Linked DNA regions of Homo sapiens: all the other regions are linked to region 2. Evidence: fine-mapped expression QTL. A gene starts in region 2. Each other region holds a variant in brackets. All regions are shown on one strand. Distances are from middle to middle. Region 1 overlaps EVI5 (ecotropic viral integration site 5). Region 2 holds the start of EVI5 (ecotropic viral integration site 5). Region 3 overlaps EVI5 (ecotropic viral integration site 5).

Region 1 (4,240 bases), 120 kb before region 2:
GTGCGATCTCAGCTCATTGCAACCTCTGCCTCCCAGGTTCAAGCGATTCTCCTGACTCAGCCTCCTGAGTAGCTGGACCTACAGGCACATGCCACCACGCTCAGCTAATTTTTTGTATTTTTAGTAGAGAGGGGGTTTCACCGTGTTAGCCAGGATGGTCTTGATCTCCTGACCTCATGATCCGCCCGCCTCAGCCTCCCAAAATGCTGGGATTACAGGCATAAGCCTCTGTGCCCGGCCTCAAGGTGATAACTTACTTTTTTGTACCAATTTGTTCCAGAACTCAATCAAGGGCCTTCTTCCAGCCCCACCTTCCTATAAATTTCTGCTAAAAAATGTCTGTCTCAGAAAATTCTTCCATCAATTCAACCTATTATTTTGCCAGTAAAGACTTAAATATGGCTTTATATAACATATAAAGTATTAGTTCAGGGAAATGAGAGACTCTATGAATTACTGCATCTTATTAAAGTGGATCACAAATTGAAACAAATCTTAGAGTTATTACAAAGATACTTGGCAAATTAGATTTCTTGTTCTATTCACTAAAATTCAGATGATCTGAAATAGACATTATGATATACAGGAAAGTTAATAACTAATCTCAGACAAAATAACAGCTTGAGAAGTAGAAAATGTTCTTATGTCTTGGCTCCTCCTACTGTGTGCAGCATAGTAGTCTACACAAATAAGCAATTATTAAATGCTGCTAAAGTCTAGAGAGCCAAAGAAATAAATGGGATTCTCAAAATGTTCTCAATCATATTTCATCAACAAAAGGTAATGTTTTATCTTAAAAGATTTAGAAAACTAAGTTCCCACCAGACAACTGAGTGAATAAAGTTATGACAGAAATCATGCTAAAATAAAATTTAGAACTGAAAACACTCATCTGGATTTCCTTCCCCAACCCCTTTTACGGCTTCTGAAATCTATTTCATTATAAATAAAAATCTAAATTGATTTTCTCCCACAAACAACTAACCAAATGCTTAACACCATTTAAAAAATAAATCACCACTTCCTCATTTGTATAATATTTACATCAGGAATTGATCAATAGACTTTTTCAGTTAATACAGACCATTTCAGGGTTACTTTTACGTTTCAAGTGTTACTGTCTTCTTTTTTTAAAACTAATATCACAGTATTTTGGTAATTATAGCTTTGCTATCTGTTTTAATACCTAGTAGAGCTAATATCCCCTGTTCTTACATTTGTTTATTGTTCCCAAACCCCAAATACTAGTATACTAAAGTAGCTAAGAGACTAGGTTTTGAAGTTAGGCAGATTTAAGTTCAAATTCTCATTCTACAATTAACACTTGCACATGACATTCAATGTTTTAGAATCTCCATTTCCTCATCCAGAAATTAAGAGTAATCAAACCTACAGGGAACTGAAAAATTAAATGAGATAGCATAGCACCTAATATATGCCAAATACTCAGTTAATGATAAGCACTGCCCACAATAGTTTTGAAGTTAGGCATGAATATTATTTTACTACTTTTGTCTATTTTTAGAATTATTCTTAAGATTTTTTTATTGCCCTGGAATTTTACAAGGAATTAAATTTCACTGAATTTGAGGGCCAGGTACAATGGTTTACAGCTGTAATCCCAGAACTTTGGGAGGCCAAGGCAGGTGGATCACTTGAGGCCAGAAGTTCGAGACCAGCCAGGCCAACATGGCAAAACCCCATCTCTACTAAAAATACAAAAATCAGCCTGGCATGGTGGCGCATGCCTGTAATCCCAGCTACTTAGGAGGCTGAGGCAGGAGAATCACTTGAATCCAGGAGGTGAAGGTTGCAGTGAGCCAAGACCATGCCACTGCACTC[C/T]GGCCTGGGCAACGGAGCAAGGCTCTGTCTCAAAAAAAAAAAAAATCACTGGGAAATTCATATCTTTATATAACATGGAGCTATTTTTGTCTATCTTTAGTTATCTTTTTAAAATGTCTGTGTGTAAAGTTTTCCAGTGTTTGTTAGGTCCTATTCTATTTTTCATTTAGGTTACTCCTAGATATACTTTTATTTTTATTTCAAATGGAACTTCTTCCAGTATATTTTTGAACTGTTTATTGACGATACATAGAAAGGTTAATAACTAAAATCTACCACCTGATTGATTCTCAATAATTCTTCAATATCTTCCTCACATTTTCTAGAATAGAGTGCTTCCTAAACTTTAAAGTGAAAACCACAGAGAGGAAGATACCTAGATATAGCTACATACAAATGTTTATCTTGTACATTGAAAAAGAAAATAGAGACAATTTTTTGACCTACCAAATTAGAAAAAAAAGAGACTAAAAGTGAGAGCAAGAATGAAATACTTAGTGTTGGCAAAGTAGTCATTAAATGGAAACTTGTTGCTAAGACAAACATACCCTGGACACATTCTTTAGGAAATTTACGTATTATACATCAAAAGTCTTTAAAATGCTAATATCTTGTAACTTATTAATTCTACTTTTTATAACTGGCTATGGAAATAATAATAGGAGACAAAAAACTTGTTATATACAAAGATGTTAACCATTAGCATTATTTTTAATAAGAAAAACTGAAAACAACCTTATATCCTGAAATAGGATAATCTCATTTCAAATAACCCACTCTTCAATCACTATTTCCTATTCTTTCCAGCTTACTCAGTTTACAAAGTAACCCAACCCCAACAATTGTTTTCACTGAGACAGTCTAGTGATCCCAACAACTTTTCACTGTCCCTCAATCCTTGATGTTCTCTATTCCTTCTTGACAAAGTTTAATTTGCAATCATTATACGGCTCCCTTGCTTTTAAGCCCCCTTGCCCTTCTCTCCCTTCGTAGTATAACTGCCTGGAAAAAACACTACTCTGGATCAACTATCTGACAATTTTGAGTCTGTACCTATGCCAGTAAATATGACTGAACAAAAACAAAACCATGACGTTTATTTAAATTACTGATCACTAAATTCAATATGGTTCTTAGCAATAATAATGTCCTTCTTCTATCCCCCTAGGTCACTATTTCATACCTATTCCTCTTTCTTCAAACCAGCAACCCTCCAATCCATTGTCTCTCAGTTGATAATCTGGCATATGATTTCACTGAAAAAAACTGAGGCAATTAGAAGAGAATTTCACAAGCTCCCAAAACCACATCCTACATCCTACCTGCATTTTTGCCCATATATTTTGATTTCTTGTTATTGTGTATTAACTACTCATGCTAGCATACTAAGTTACATCTCCTAACTTCGCACTAAATTCCGTATCTTCCTGACTCCAGTGATTATCCCCCATTCTTAATGATAAATTTTTCCTACTTGATTATCACCATAAAAGCATGCAGTTATTTCTCCTATCTTAAAAAAAAAACAGAAAACAGAAACAAAAAATTCAACATAATTACCCTCTCTAGCTACTGTCCCATTTCTTTTATCCTTATAGTAAATTCCTTGAAAAATATCTCTAATTTTTCTTCTTCTATTCCAGTTAGGTTTTAGTACCTACCATTCTGCTCCACTCGTTTCTAGGATAAATTATAATCATGCTGGAAAATGCAATGGTCATTTCTCCATCCTCATTTCACAAAAACTCTTCAGTATTTGACATGGTAAATCCTTCTCTCTTTCTCACTGTCTCTTGGCTTCTGGGAACTACACCTACCTGGTTTTCTCCTAGTTTGCTACTTTCTACTTGTCTTCCTCATCTTTAAATGTTGGTTTATTCTCAGGCTCAATTCTTGAATTCTTCTCTATTTTATCTACAATCCTTTCCCAAGTAATCTCACCCATTCTCATGGCTTTCAATACTATGACCCCGCCAATAACTACCAAATTTATATTTTGAGCTTGGCTTCTTTTAATTTCAGATCTGAATATTTAAGAAGCTAACTGGACATCTCCTAGGCATCTCATTCCCAAGATACCCAAAATTGGGCTCCTGGTATCCCCACTAAACCAAATCCTTCTGGAGTCTTTCCCATCTCAGGTAATGGGAACACCATTTATCTACCTGCTCAGACCACAAGGCTTGGTTCCTCCTCCTCACACATCTCTACATTCTAGCTGTCCACTTTATATTTGAAATCTATTCAGAATCCAATTACTTCTTACCTCAGTCCAAGCCACCATCATCTTTTTTTTTTTTTTTTAAGACAGGATTTCACTCTGTCACCCAGGAAGGAATGCAGTGGCATGATCACAGCTCACTGCAGCCTCAAATTCCCTGGTTCTAGTGATCCTCCT
Region 2 (4,240 bases):
TTTATCACCCACGTACCTATAAAACCAACAATGCCACTCCTACGTACATACTCCAATCTAGTAATGTCCTATTTCTTGATCTTTGGTGGTTCACTTAGTAAAAATTCATTACCTGCGATGTTTTTTGTTTTTGTTTTTTTTGAAAGACGGTCTCACTCTGCCGCTCAGGCTGGAGTGCAGTGGCATGATCAAGGCTCACTGCAACTTCGACCTCCCCGGCTTTGGTGATCCTCCCACCTCAGCCTCCTGGGTAGCTCGGACTACCAGCGCACACAACCACACCCAGCTAATTTTTGTATTTTTAGTAGAAAATGGGGTTTTGCCACGTTGCCCTGGCTGGTCTCAAACTCCTGGGCTCAAGTGATCCACCTGCCTCTGCCTCCCAAAATGCTAGGATCACATGCGTGAGCCACCGCACCCAGACCACCTGCACATTTAGAATTGTGAACTTTTTCTCTATACTTCAATAACTTAGTTCTAAGATTTATTTGACACAAAGTTCTCGGAAATCGTAGTTATCATTTTAGAACAGAAAAAAGACCACCTGGGCCAGGTGCGCTGGCTCACGCCTGTAATCCCAGCACTTTCGAAGGCCGAGGCGGGCAGATCATTTGAGGTCAGGAGTTCGAGACCAGCCTGACCAACACGGTGAAACCCCGTTTCTACTAAAAATACAAAAAAAAAAAAATTAGCCGGGCGTGGTGATGTACGCCTGTAATCCCAGCTACTCGGGAGGCTGAGGCAGGAGAATATATCCAGCCTAGGCAACAGAGTGAGACTCAGCCTTAAAAAAAAAAAAAAAAAAAAAAAAGAAAAGAAAAGAAAAGAAAAAGAAGGCCGGGCACGGTGGCTCACGCCTGTAACCCCAACACTTTGGGAGGCTGAGGCGGGTGGAACACGAGGTCAAGAGATCAAGACCATCGTGGCCAACATGGTGAAACCTCATCTCTACTAAAAATACAAAAATTAGCTGGGAGTGGTGGCGCGCGCCTGTAGTCCCAGCTACTCGCGGGGCTGAGGCAGGAGAATTGCTTAAACGCAGGAGGTGGAGGTTGCAGTGAACCAACGTCGCCACTGCACTCCAGTCTGGCGACAGAGCGAGACTCCCTGTCAAAAAAAAAAAAAAAAAAGAAAAGAAAAGAAAAAGAAAAAGAGCTTCTGGTACACTGGTGAAATTCTACTAACAAAATTTTAAAACAAAAAAAGTTACTTACATCAGCTCAGAACAAAGATTAAAAACTACCAGCAGATCACTTTTCTTTAACTTCAGTAAGCACTGGAATTCATTCTTTCGGCAAAGAAAGGAGTTTATTATTCAACACTGTAACCCAAAGAAAAGATACCACTTCAAGAAAATACTTCTTTTCGAAAGCAGCTCTACCAGCAATAGATAGGAGGAAAGCGAGGAAACCATTCCAAAAGGCTTGGTTTAACTCTTGGGTGAAAGGATGCCAAATGAGATGATCTAAGAAGCCCCAAAGACAGACAGACAGACAGACACAGGGAAATCACAGCAACTCTTTTGAGTGGAAACACCAACACCACAATCCAACCTACCGGAAATCCTGAGGTTAATTTGAGGCTTGCCCCACTAGTCATAAGGTGATTCAGGAATGGCTACAAACTCTTCTCAAGTTCATTCTGGACCTGGCACATCTGTCTTGCCCATCAGCAGCCTGGAGACACGCCATGCGCAGAATCCCGGAGGCCAAGTAAAGACGCCAACTTTGCAAGTCAGGGGGGCGAGTGCTCTCGCCCCTCAGGTCCCCAAAGGGAACCGACTTCTGGCCTCGAGGGTGGGGTGCAGGGTCAGTGTCCTCCACGGGATTTACGAGGACGTGCCCCCGAAGCTGCTCCGTCCCTCCACCGCCCTGGGACGCCACAGTTAGACCCGCCGACGAGTTTCTTCCCCAGCGCCCACGAGAAGGAGGGCTGCGGGCGGCGGCGGCGGCGACAGGCGAGGAAGCGAGTGCAGGGAACTTAGGCCCTGGCGGGGCCAGGCGCGCCCGCCCCGCTCCCACAGCAAAACTTGCGGCGGCCCCCGCCCGCCGCGCCTCGGCCCAGCTGTGCGCCAGCGGAACACGGACTCACCGCCCGCCCGGCCTCCCGGCCCGCCCGGCCTGGCGCAGCGCCCCTCACCTTGGAAACGTTGAGTAGACTTCGCCGTAAACATTAACTTCCCATCCAGCCGGCAGCCGCGCCGCCGCGTCTCAGCGCCTCGGCCCCGCTCCTGGCTCCACGGGTCGCCCGTCCCGAGTTCCCAAAAGCACCACGCTCACTCAGAAGCTCAGGGCCGCCTCGCGACCCTCACCTACCCCTCCCGGCACCGCCGCTGTCGGAACTGCAGCCAGCCCCTTGCCAGCTGGCCAGCTGGTTCCTCCGGGGTCCGGCCCGGCCGCGTCAGGAGAGCCCAAGGCGCAGGCGCGGGAGGGCCTTAAAGAGACCCGGCAGCCTCTACCGCAGAATGGGTTGGAGCAGGTTAGGGGCCGGGCGGGCCGGCCGAGAAAAGGAGAAGGCGAAGGGATTGGACGGAGTGCAGAGGAGGCGGGGAAATCGCTCTCGCCCTCCGCCTCTCTTTCAAAGCACCAGCCTTCAGTCCTGCAAGTCGCCGACTTCCCCGGCCACTGGAACCGCCCCTTCCATGTTAAAACGGTAGAAGACACACCCCCTCGGGGGCCCGAAGCGACCCCGAGCTTAGGACTGCAGGCCTCGCGCTGCCGCACCGACGCGGAGCCTGACTTTCAGGGCCCTGGCACGCGGTGCTGACGCGCATGCTTCGGAAGGCAGCCCCGAGCTCCCCCAGAGGTGGCCTTAGGGCACTCGCAAAAACAATAATCAACGCGTAAATGACACTTGTAATTGTAATGTACTCTTACACGTGTCTTCGCATTGGGTTTATGCAGACTACTGCAGGGGGCAGAACATGGGCACGAATACGTAAGATTCAGCCGGGCAGCCCTCCAGCGTCAACGAAGACATTCTTAGAAGGAAAGTACTTTGTTTGGGACGGAAACAGCCTATTAATTTCTGGTCCAGGAAAAGCAGGCAAGAAAAAGTAAAAAGGCAATACAGATTACTTTCATTATATGTTTAGAAGTGACAGCCGGGCGCGGTGGCTCACACCTGTAATCCCAACACTTTGGGAGGCCGAGGCGGGCGGATTGCCTGAGGTCAGGAGTTGGAGACCAATCTGGCCAACATGGTGAAACCCCGTCTCTACTAAAAATACAAAAAAAAAAAATAGCCCGGCGTCGTGGCGTGCGCCTGTACTCCCAGCCAAGCTACTCTGGAGGCTGAGGCAGGGGAATTGCTTGAACCACGGAGGTGGAGGTTGCAGTGAGCCAAGATCGCGCCACTGCACTCCAGCCTGGGCGACAGAACGATACTCTGTCTCAAAAAAAAAAAGGGACAAAAATTATAATAATTAGCAGCACAAGAAACTCCGGAATTATTTGTCTAGAAATTAGTATCCCTATTTTTAAATTTAAATTTATAAGACAGAATTCGCAGATGGGTTTCCACTGAACTAAGCATTTCAGAAAAAAAAAAAAAAAAAAACCTTACTTTTTTTTCAACAAGATTAGGAAATACCAAGAAATAGGAAGTAAAGCCATGCCCTCCACCCAGCTAAAAACTTTGAAAACTTGAACTTTTATCTGAGGCATATGTTTGCATAACTTTAGGTTGTGCCATTATTTAAAGAAATTTCAATTAACAATTTTATTGCAACTCAATCCTTGTATAAGAAAACTAAGCTACATCCTTGATAATGTACCTCTCCCCTCTTATATTCCATCCGTCAGCAAATTCTATTGGTTTTTCCCTTACAAATGGTCCTTGAATCTGTCCTCTCCTATTTCCTCCATCACCACCCTAGTCTAGGCTACCTTCACCTGGGGAGTGGGGGTGGAGGGATTACTGACCTAGTCTTCTTGTGGTTTACCCATATTCCCTTTATCCCCTCTCTAATCTCAACACAACAGGCAGAGTGACTTTTTCAAAATAACAGTGTGACCCTGTCACTTCCCAGCCTAAACCACTTAAACACTTTCCCATTCTCTTAGAAAAAACCCTCCTAACTAACCAAGCCCTGAATGGCCAGGTGCCTTGCCCACCTCTCCACCTCTTCTCACTGCTCAGACCAATTCCACCCTGCTGTCTGTGCTCCAGCCACGCTAGCCTCTTTTATTCCCTATTTACCGGCTTCCTGGCCTCAACAGAGCTTTTACTCATGCTTTGC
Region 3 (4,240 bases), 63 kb before region 2:
ATAGAATAAAACACCTAGGAATCCAATTTACAAGGGATGTGAAGGACCTCTTCAAGGAGAACTACAAACCACTGCTCAACAAAATAAAAGAGGACACAAACAAATGGAAGAACATTCCATGCTCATGAATAGGAAGAATCAATACTGTGAAAATGGCCATACTGCCCAAAGTAATTTATAGATTCAATGCTATCCCCATGAAGCTACAATTGACTTTCTTCACAGAATTGGAAAAAACTACTTTAAAGTTCATATGGAACCAAAAAAGAGCCCACATTGCCGAAACAATCCTAAGCAAAAAGAACAAAGCTGGAAGCATCATGCCACCTGACTTCAAACTACACTACAAGGCTACAGTAACCAAAACAGCATGGTACTGGTATCAAAACAGAGATATAGACCAATAGAACAGAACAGAGGCCTCAGAAATAACACCGCACATCTACAACCATCTGCTCTTTGACAAACCTGACAAAAACAAAAAATGGGGAAAGGATTCCCTATTTAATAAATGATGCTGGGAAAACTGGCTAGCCATATGTAGAAAGCTGAAACTGGATCCCTTCCTTACACCTTATACAAAAAGTAATTCAAGATGGATTAAAGACTTAAATGTTAGACCTGAACCATAAAAACCCTAGAAGAAAACCTAAGCAATACCATTCAGGACACAGGCATGGGCAAGGACTTCATGACTAAAACACCAAAAGCAATGGCAACAAAAGCCAAAATTAACAAATGGGATCTAATTAAACTAAAGAGCTTCTGCACAGCAAAAGAAACTACCATCAGAGTGAACAGGCAACCTACAGAATGGGAAAAAATCTTTGCAATCTACCCAACTGACAAAGGGCTAATATCTAAAATCTACAAAGAACTTAAACAAATTTACAAGAAAAAAACAAACAACCCCATCAAAAAATGGGCAAAGGTTATAAACAGACACTTCTCAAAAGAAGACATTTATGCAGCATACAAATGAAAAAATGCTCATCATCACTGGTCATCAGAGAAATGCAAATCAAAACCACAATGAGATACCATACCATCTCAAGCCAGTTAGAATGGCAATCATTAAAAAGTCAGGAAACAACAGATGCTGGAGAGGATGTGGAGAAATAGGAATGCTTTTACACTGTTGGTGGGAGTGTAAATTAGTTCAACCATTGTGGAAGACAGTGTGGCAATTCCTCAAGCATCTAGAACTAGAAATACCACTTGACTCAGTGATCCCATTACTGGGTATATACCCAAAGGATTATAAATCATGCTACTATAAAGATACATGCACACGTATGTTTATTGCGGCACTATTCACAATAGCAAAAACTTGGAACCAACCCAAATGTCCATCAATGATAGACTGGATTAAGAAAATGTGGCACATATATACCATGGAATACTATGCAGCCATAAAAAAGGATGAGTTCATGTACTTTGTAGGGACATGGATAAAGCTGGAAACCATCATTCTGAGCAAACTATCATAAGGACTGAAAACCAAACACTGTATGTTCTCACTCATAGGTGGGAATTGAACAATGAAAACACTTGGACACAGGGAGGGAAACATCACACCCTGGTGCCTGTCAAGGGGTGGAGGGCTGGGGGAGGGATAGCATTAGGAGAAATACCTAATGTAAACGATGAGTTAATGGGTGCAGCAAACCAACATGGCACATGTATACCTATATAACAAACCTGTACGTTGTGCACATGTACCCTAGAACTTAAAGTATAACAATAATTTTTTTTAAAACTCCAGTAATTATTCCTTAGTTGTCAACATATATATTAAACACATCTGGTATTCTGGGGTAAATTGTGAATTGTATGGGAATAAGCAATTCATCTACAACCACACCTTACCTACAACAATTTTAATATAACGCTTTGTGTATTTTAGTTGCACAGTAATTACTGATCACAACCGTAAAAATAAATTCAACTTTGGTCACTTACAAAATCTATACCAGAAGTTATCTTTACTGGAAACTACTTCATCCTTGTATATAATAACCAACTGAACACTTAAAAATCCTTTATACCCTTTAGCACTGTCTGTAAGTGCTTTACTTTGTCAGTCCTGCCCCAACTTCATGTCCCACTATTTTAATTACTTAAAATTATATTTTATGCTGACAAATACAAATTGTATATATTTATCATGTACCACATGGCTAAATCAAGCTAATTCACATACTCATTACCTCTCATACTTTTTTTTGTGGTAAGAACACAAAAGCTACTCTCTTAGCAATTTTCAGGAATATAATATACTGTTATTAACAATAGTAACTGTATTATACTATAGATCTCTTGAACTTATTCCTCTTATCTAACTGATATTTCATATCCTTTGATCAATATCTTTTTTTTAAATTTTATTATTATTAGACTTTTAAGTTTTAGGGTACATGTGCACAACGTGCAGGTTTGTTATATATGTATACATGAGCCA[T/C]GTTGGTGTGCTGCACCCATTACCTCGTCATTTAGCATTAGGTATATCTCCTAATGCTATCCTTCCCCCCTCCCCCCACCCCACAACCGTCCCCAGTGTGTGATGTTCCCCTTCCTGTGTCCATGTGTTCTCACTGTTCAATTCTCACCTATGAGTGAGAACATGCAGTGTTTGGTTTTCCCACTATTTTTCTATCACATATCTCCTTTTGCTCTATTTAATAGTCCCTTTCATTTCCTTTTCTGAGAACCTATTTGCTCATAACAGCCCTCACACAACCTAACACTCCACTTTGATCTTTCAAGATCCTCTTCTAATTTCATCTTATCCAAGAAACTTTCAGAATCTACATATTATTTTAAAAGACTATCTCTTCCCAAAACTTCTGACCAGAGGATTTGCTCAAAATCTTTCAAATGTAGTAAACAAAGGGGTAAAAAGTTAAAACCAAAACACATATACACACACTAAACCCACAAAAAGTTATGTGGCACACCCAGCTTTCTACCTTACCCACTGAGTGCTGAGAGCCAAAGAAAACCTTTAAAAGGGCTTCCTAAGAAATGATAAGAAAGCAGTATTTTCTATCACCAGGTTTGCATGAGTTGATATTAGGTCCTATTCCTGGGGCTCAATTAAGCCAGACTCAAAATCTATAGTTCCTAATCCTGTTCCCTGTGAATTTCCTTCAAGCTACTGTTGTCTGTCTCCATCTCAATAGGAAGGGACCAAGTCTGAGGACAGGTCTATTTAAAGTAAAAATAATCTCAGCAGTAAAATTATAAAATTACTTCAATAATTACCTCAGCAGTACATTTTTTTAAAGCTAAGCAGAAGTAACATTCACAATATATTTATACATGATATTAAGTCCAATATCTAATTGTCAAATAATATAAATCAATTTTTCTAATTCTATTCAGACTTCTTCCCATGCTGTTGCGGGAAGTCAGGGACCCTGAACGGAGGGACCGGCTGGAGCCAAGGCAGAAGAAGATAAATTGTGAAGATTTCATGGACATTTATCAGTTCCCAAAATTAATACTTTGATAATTTCTTACACCTGTCTTTACTGCAATCTCTGAACATAAATTATGAAGATTTCATGGACATTTATCACTTCTCCAATCAATACTCTTATAATTTCTTAGGCATGTCTTTACTTTAATCTCTTAATCCTGTTATCTTCGTAAACTGAGAATATACGTCACCTCAGGATCACTATTGTACAAATTGATTGTAAAATATGTGTGTTTGAACAATAGAAAATCAGTGCACCCTGAAAAAGAACAGAATAACAGCGATTTTCAGGGAACAAGGGAAGATAACCATAAGGTCTGACTGCTTGCGGGGTCGAGCAGAACAGAGCCATATTTTTCTTCTTGCAGAAAGTGAGTAGCAGAAATATCGCTGAATTATTTTCCCAGCAAGGAATAACCCTGGGGAAGGAATGCAATTCCTGTGGGTAGGTCTATGAACGGCTGCTCTGGGAATGTCTGTCTTACGCGGTTGAGATAAGGACTGAAATACGCCCTGGTCTCCTGCAGTACCCTCAGACTTACTAGGATTGGGAAATTCCAGCCTGTTAAATTCTAGTCAGACTGGTTGTCTGCTCTCGAACCCTGTTTCCTGTTAAGATGTTTATCAAGACAATGCGTGCACAGTGGGACATAGACCCTCATCAGTAATTCTAATTTTGCCTTGCCTTGTGATCTTTATTGCCCTTTAAAGCATGTGATCCTTGTGACCTACTCCCTGTTCCACCCCCTCCCCTTTTAA

What was found. PIP is the estimated chance that this variant, and not a neighbour inherited with it, causes the effect. A credible set is the group of variants that fine-mapping cannot tell apart.
Region 1: its variant is the best candidate, but not a certain one, in a credible set for the expression of EVI5 in whole blood (INTERVAL, PIP 0.54).
Region 3: its variant is the best candidate, but not a certain one, in a credible set for the expression of EVI5 in whole blood (INTERVAL, PIP 0.59).

What each region holds. Positions count from the first base shown.
Region 1 is chr1:92,667,675-92,671,914 of GRCh38, forward strand. The region is part of intron 10 of EVI5 (ecotropic viral integration site 5); the gene reads right to left. Among named protein-coding and RNA genes, the nearest start is that of EVI5, 120 kb to the right of the region's middle. The variant C/T (reference allele first, on the strand shown) is at 1,843.
Region 2 is chr1:92,782,697-92,786,936 of GRCh38, forward strand. It overlaps EVI5 (ecotropic viral integration site 5), which reads right to left and starts at 2,412. Exons shown (of 20, transcript NM_001350197.2): 1 at 2,140-2,412. RefSeq lists a silencer at 1,993-2,262 and an enhancer at 2,533-2,812.
Region 3 is chr1:92,719,935-92,724,174 of GRCh38, forward strand. The region is part of intron 2 of EVI5 (ecotropic viral integration site 5); the gene reads right to left. Among named protein-coding and RNA genes, the nearest start is that of EVI5, 63 kb to the right of the region's middle. RefSeq lists an enhancer at 3,843-4,240. The variant T/C (reference allele first, on the strand shown) is at 2,462.